2 linked regions of the Homo sapiens genome follow. The protein of the gene in region 2 interacts with the protein of the main gene of each other region in a biochemical or structural test. Each region holds a gene or a part of one and is shown on either strand. Other genes may lie near its edges.

Region 1 (3,500 bases), on a different chromosome or scaffold from region 2:
TTAATACAATCATCTAAAATCTGCCAAAATATCTTATATACACAGGCACTGGGCTGGTTGGTGGGGACACTACAGTGAACAAGAAAGATATGGTTCTTGCCTCTTCCAGGAGTTTATGTTCTACTTTTTCATCTCAGCTGTCAACTCTGATCAATTGGGAGTGGCTGTCTAGAATAAAGTGTTGAAAATTTTGTCTACCACAGACACTTGTAGAGAGAAGTGGCAACATTTGAAATGGATGCTTGCTGATCTTGATCTAGGGTCTTCTAAATGTGTTCAATAACAGCATACATATAACTCTCTGTCCAATTCTGTTTATTTCTGGTCCTCAGCCCTTAACCAAGGTAATGACACTTAAAAATACTACCTTAAAGTTACAGCATTTTAAGCTTCAAGGAAAATTTGGGCAAGTATAACTTCCCACAACTCCAAAAGCATGAATTACAAGGATACTCATAAAGCAGTCCTTATGACCCAGGCCCCTAATGACTGAAGTATTAGAAATTCAGTCAAAAAGCATGTATTTTTTTATTTTTAATTTTTTTACTTTTGAGACGGAGTCTCGCTCTGTTACCTAGGCTGGAGTCCAATGGCACGATCTCAGCTCACTGCAACTTCCGCCTCCCGGGTTCAAGCGATTCTCCTGCCTCAGCCTCCCAGGTAGCTGGGATTACAGGCACATGCCACCAAGCCCGGCTAATTTTTTAATTTTAATTTTAATTTTAATTAATTTATTTATTTAGAGACAGAGTTTCGCTCTGTCGCCCAGGCTGGAGTGCAATGGTGTGATCTCAGCTCACTGCAACCTCCGCCTCTCAGGTTCAAGTGATTCTCCTGCCTCAGCCTCCCGAGCAGCTGGGATTACAGGCGCCCGCCACCACGCCCGGCTAATTTTTTGTATTTTTAGTAGAGATGGGGTTTCACCATGTTGGCCAGGCTGGTCTTGAACTCCTGACCTCAAGTGATCCGCCCGCCTCGGCCTCCTAAAGTGCTGGGATTACAGGCATGAGCCACTGCGCCCGGCCATTTTTGTATTTTTAGTAGAGATGGGGTTTCACCATGTTGGCCAGGCTGGTCTCGAACTCCCAACCTCAAGTGATCCACTGGCCTCAGCCTCCCAAAGTGCTGGGATTACAGGCGTGAGCCACTGCACCCGGCCCAAAAAGCATGTATTTGGTGCATATTCTGTATCAGCACCAAGTGCTGAGGACATAGCAATGAACTTAATCCCTGCCACTGTGGAGCTTATATTTTAGTAAACAATATTAAGAGTGGTAGAAGCATGTAAGGATAAGCATTCTCTTAGAAAGTTGAGGCTTTTCCAGCTTTGGAAATAAGAGCTCACTGTTACCTCAGAGAGAAAGTGGAGGAGGTTCTGGTGGCTGGCTTTCCTTGCCGCTTCCTGAGATTCCTCACTGCCTCCATCCCCAACAAGCAGTTCACTAGGTTCTCTCTCCGGGCTGCTTTCCTCTAGTTCCTCAGCCTCTGGATCCTCAGTTTCCCTCCAGTTGCCCACATCAAGATCCAGACTGGAGTCCCATGAGCTGAAGAGGGACCTGCAGTCATTGCTCAACTCAGAGTCATTGGGATGATCTTGTTCAGAATCCAGCCAAACCCACTCGTGTCCCATCTGTAAATACACAGGAAAACATGCATTAAATTCATTCAAATAAATATTCCTGAGGCATCTCCATCTCCCGAGTTCAGTAGAAAAATAAGGGGCCAGAAATTTATTTGTATTCAAGTATTCATCATTAGGAAGAATTAAAATCTTGCTGAAGGGAGACATGAGATGAAATTATATTTGTCTTTGGGAATAAAGAAAGCCCCATGTCAGTATAACAGAGATATTGCACCATACAATACAGTATAATAGAGACATTAATATTACCTAATAATTATTTTTACTTGGAATTCCTCATATTCACACCAAAAGAAGGGAAAGAACTGGAGCATAGCTAGCTCAATTATTTTCCTCTAGCCCAAATCATCCATAACTAAACCGTAAGGCAAACAAATTGAGGGGGCAGGGGATATTTTCCTCAGTGTATAAACATTTTTAACCTATGAACCATTAAACCTTCAAAACACACTTTAGGATTGCCTTTGGCATCCTTCTGGTCATATCCAAATTGATGTTGAGAAACATTAAGCTTAAAATATATCTTCCCTTGCTCTCATTACACCACTATCTTGGTTTTTTTATATCTTTCTTTGTCCTCTCCCTTTTACAACTTTCAATAAATCCCTACCTTCTATGTTCATGCTTGGTCCTCTGCTTTCTTATTAATGTATTTTAAAAAAATGTATATATACTTTGAGGTTTCAACTTTGACCTCTATTCAGGTGGCTCCCAAATCTCTCTACCTTTACTTCTTATATGAATTCTGGTGTCATTTCTCCATGCATCCAAAAGTCAATTCCCTTTAGATGCTCTACCACCTGCTGTAACATTTCTAAAATAAAAATCACATTTCCTTTATCTCCAAAATCACTGCTTCTTCCCAATTTCCTTATCCCCATCACCATTTTCTTTTCTTTTCTTTTTTTTTTTTTTTTTTTTTGAACGAACTTTCACTCTTGTTGCCCAGGCTGGAGCACAATGGCCCAATCTCGGCTCACTGCAACCTCTGCTTCCTGGGTTCAAGCAATTCTCCTGCCTCAGCCTCCTGAGTAGCTGAGATTACAGGTGCCCACCACCATGCCCGGCTAATTTTTGTATATTTATAGAGACGGGGTTTCACCATGTTGACTAGGCTGGTCTTGAACTTCTGACCTCAGGGGATCCACCCACCTTTGCCTCCCAAAGTGCTGGGATTACAGGCGTGAGCCACCACACCCGACCCCATCACCATTTTCTTAGTCTACAGAACCCACAATTCTGTTTTGACCCTTCCTTCTCTTATATTCAGTAAGCAAGTCCTCTTCCCAGTTTTCTCCCACAATAAGTTTTCTCAGTGTCCATCCTTTCCTGAATAAATGCCATAGTCTCCTAGTCAGCTTTTCTATCTTTAATCCTATCTGCTCTCAACAAATATAGTTATTCTACTCAAGGCTTTATAACAGCTATCACCTCAAATATAAATTTCTCAATCTGCCAAAGTCCTCCACAAATTTAGCCTTATTTTGTTCCCTTCACTCACATGTACACCTCCTTATTCCTTAGTATAATCCCTGTTCTAATTACATTTTTCTCCGTATTGCCACCCACCACCCCCACCAGATGCCTACACCTTCCATTCGGTTTGCTAGTCTCATTTATCACCTTCTCTACCAACTCAAAACGTATGTCCTTTAATGGACCTTTTCCACACACTTCTCCCAGCTTTTAGAGCTTGTGTTTGTATCTCATGCCTGTTTGCAGACTGCTTTGGGACTACAATGTTATTTTTTATTTTCCTTTCTTGTTTGCAACATGTCCATGTAACAAGGAATTTCATGTTCTAACTCCTGGACTAATTGAATACCTTTCCATTGCCTCACAAAGACTGTATCTTCTC
Region 2 (3,316 bases):
CATGAGAGGGCTCCGGGCACGAAGACCAAACCAGGCCGGGAGCAGCCCAGCCCCAGACAGCATGGAGACAGAGGGCGTTTATCACAGGAGACAATGCAGATGGGGCATCATTAACTTGTTGTTATTGGGGCAGCTGGGTGACATCGTGTGTTCCTTGGCCCTCTGGGTGCACCTCCTGCCCATCTGGGCCAGCGTGGCTGCAGAGGCGTGGATGCTTAGGCAGCCTGGGGAGGGACAGGTGGGAACACTCGTGCTCCGCAGGCGCCCACAGGCCCAGTGCCCACGGCTGCTGAGAGGTGCCCTCACGGAGGCCCCAGCCCCCTGCCCCTTGGAGGAGCAGCAGAGCCCAGTGGACAGGGAGAGAACTCTCAAGAGTATGGCCCACAGAGGATGCCAGCCTCGCCGCACAGGACCGGCAGGTAGGGTGGACAGGAGGGTGGGCTGGTGGGGGCTGATCGCGGGCCCTCCCGCTCCAAACAAAAAAGTCCCCACACGGAACAAACGAACTGAATGGCGATGTATTTTAAACGCTCATATTTTGTTTCTCCTCTCACACTTCTCCCTTTGCGTGTTCCTTTTCCACAATTCTAATGCTACTGTCCATCAAACCCTGGCACCTGAGGCCACGATGTTTCAGAGACAATCGTACGGAGAAGCCACTTCACAGTCAGTCACAGGAAGGCCAGAGCCGGCAACAGGACACAACAGAGCAAGGCTTTAAAAATTACTCGAAAGGGAAGAAAACCCTTGAAAGCCTCAGGCCCACCCTCCTGCCCCGAGGGAAGACACCCCCATTGCGGCGGTTTCCTCCCAAGCCTCGCCGCCGTCACAGGAGCCCTCTCCTCTGCCATCGTCTGTCCTGGCGTTTCTCGGACGAAGCTTTCACCTCAATCTCTAGAAGCAGAAACGAAACAGTCCCAGCCCTCCCCCCGCCATATCCAAGTATACATGAGGGATAAAATTACATTTGTACAAAAATAGATTTTTTTTTTTTACCTTTCCAGATGCTTTAGACATTTTCTCTTATCTTTACTCTCTTTATGGATCTGTCATCCTCTCTAAAGTATTAGCTATGCGTCCCAGCTAAGGCATTGCTAAGGATTGGGAACGGCTAAAGCTGTCTGCTCCAAAGCATCTTAAAATAGATGCATCTCCTGCCTTGAGATATTCATTCGAACCCGGATTTCACCAAAGGAGGGTCCTTATGTACTTGCTTACACGAAGCAAATTTATAGGAAAACAGGGGAAACGTCTTGATTAAAAATAAACACAAAACACTGGTAACCGCTCCGCCTTTCCTGGGTGGCGCTGGTGTGCGGCTCTCTCCACACGCGTCTCTCTGTACAGCACATACATGTTTACACCACACACCTGCGTGGACGAGCACCAGATCACGCACCCCAGCTCCACGACAGGGACACCAGCCGACTACCCACAGGCTGCACATTCCGGCAGGGCCCTCCTGGGTGCCCCACGGGGAGGGGCTCGGGGTCATCTCCAGCACTGCCACCAGGCCGCCAGCCCAGAATTCTTGGGAAACACCGTGCTCGGAAAACCGAAGGTCAGGGCTGTCCTTCCCAGAGGCCGTGTGCTTCCAGGGTGCGGAGGGCCGGCGGCTGACACAGGCCCCAGGGTGGAAGGTCCTGGCAGGCCAGCTTCCAAGCATGCCCGACGCAGCCTAGGGGAGCCCGGCTCTGTGGCATCTTCACTCCTGAGCCTCAGGAGCCCCATCTGAACGGCAAAGCCGGGAGGTGACCAGCTGAGGAGCGTGCCTGAAGGTGCCGGGGTGCCCTGGGTCCCCAGGAAGCAGCCACTGGGAAGTGGGGGCCCTGCGGGGAAGCCGCTTCATCCAGCCGGGCCAAGGCGGGGACAGGCACAGGTGGCTAATGAGCTGATGTTAGTGCTATCTTTAGAAAATTAAAGATTGTCCCACCAAAATAATAATAATTACAAAAAATCACCTTAATTGAACTGGATTGGTAATACTACTACAGGTCTGGTTAAATAGAAATTCTACCTCTCTACTCAGTGATGAGCCGCACTCCCCACACATCACCTTTTCAAACCAACAGCACTGTACAACTACAAGGCCGATGAGAAAGGGACGGGAAGGCTGCGGGAAGTGCCCGGGACACGTAGAGCGGTGGGTAAGGCTGCTGTGGCCAGGGAGGCCAGGTTCTGCTTTCAGGGGTTGGCGGCCGGGGGGCTTCAGTGCTTTACAGCCAGCCAGCCAGCCAGCCAGCGCCGGAAACGACAAAGTTCCCAAGAAGCAGCCGACCCCCCGCAACGGAGGCCCCGTCCCTGGGCTTTTTCCTCTGGAGCCGCGGGCATTCCCAAGGGTCCGGGCACGGATGGGTGGGCGCTGGCTGCAGAAGGCACCAGGTGTTGGCGTTGGGTCTTTTGCACTCCCACCGCTGGGGCCCCAAGAGTACCTGCACCCTCCTGCCATTTCCACCACACCCGCCAGGGGCAGCTGGGGCTTCCTGGCAGTGCCTGGGAGGGGCCCAGCTGGCCGGGGACCTGGTACAGGTATGAGGCTCAACACTCTGCCTCAGGACGGTGGATCGGGCAGGGGGCCACCTCTAGGGATCCACAACGCTGAAAGGCAGGGGTGGAGGGCGGCGGGGAGGAGAGGCTTCTGGAATCTCTGACAGCCTGTCTCGGGCACAGACTCAGCTGCAGGCTCCACTCGGGTGCCTAAGCTCAGCTCTGGCTGGGAGCTCCAGGAAGGCAAAGAATGGACACTTTCTTCCCCACCAAGGCTGGAAAGCTGCCTCTCCAAGCCACTGCCTCCCGGTCCAACCTGTAGGCAGCTCCCCTCACCACTGAGGAAGCCCCTGCTCCAGGTGGGGAAAGACTATGGAGAAGGCGTCCACCCCCCCGCATCATTCCTAGACTGCGGCTGGGAAGACAAGACCCCCTCCGGTATCCCCCCCATCCACCCTCTGTTCAGGCACCTGCCACTGACAAAGGCTGGGTCCACGGGACTGAGGCGTGAACGGGAAAAGTACTCAGGCCAAAGGGAGGGCCTTCCAGTGCAAAAGAGGCGAGTTCAACCTGAGAGGGCCCCGCACCACCGGAGCCCGGGGGCAGAGCCTGCGGGAGGAGCGCCAGGCCGCACTGGGCTGAGCCAGGGAGGCCCCAAGCCCCGCCCCCACCCCACCTTCAACCAGAGCAGGCGTTCAGTGAGGCTCCCAAGTAAGGCTCTGGGTGAACAACGCTGTCCGTGGACAATACCAGGCTGGGTGGTCCCACCAGGGCCTGCGTGTGGCCCAGGCCCGAGGGCGCTGCGACTCCGGGTTCTCAGATTCCAAGA

Evidence for each region. Proteins that work in one complex are often made in the same cells at the same time.
Region 1: the proteins of RXRA (region 2) and BRD8 form a complex in vitro, tested with the Homo sapiens proteins (one study listed by BioGRID).

What each region holds. Positions count from the first base shown.
Region 1 is NC_000005.10:138,151,131-138,154,630, forward strand, and holds part of BRD8 (bromodomain-containing protein 8), read right to left. Parts: intron 1,631-3,500; coding exon 1,352-1,630; intron 1-1,351. UniProt on the Homo sapiens protein: May act as a coactivator during transcriptional activation by hormone-activated nuclear receptors (NR). Isoform 2 stimulates transcriptional activation by AR/DHTR, ESR1/NR3A1, RXRA/NR2B1 and THRB/ERBA2.
Region 2 is NC_000009.12:134,437,770-134,441,085, reverse strand, and holds the end of RXRA (retinoic acid receptor RXR-alpha), read right to left. Parts: 3' UTR 501-3,316; downstream 1-500. UniProt on the Homo sapiens protein: Receptor for retinoic acid that acts as a transcription factor.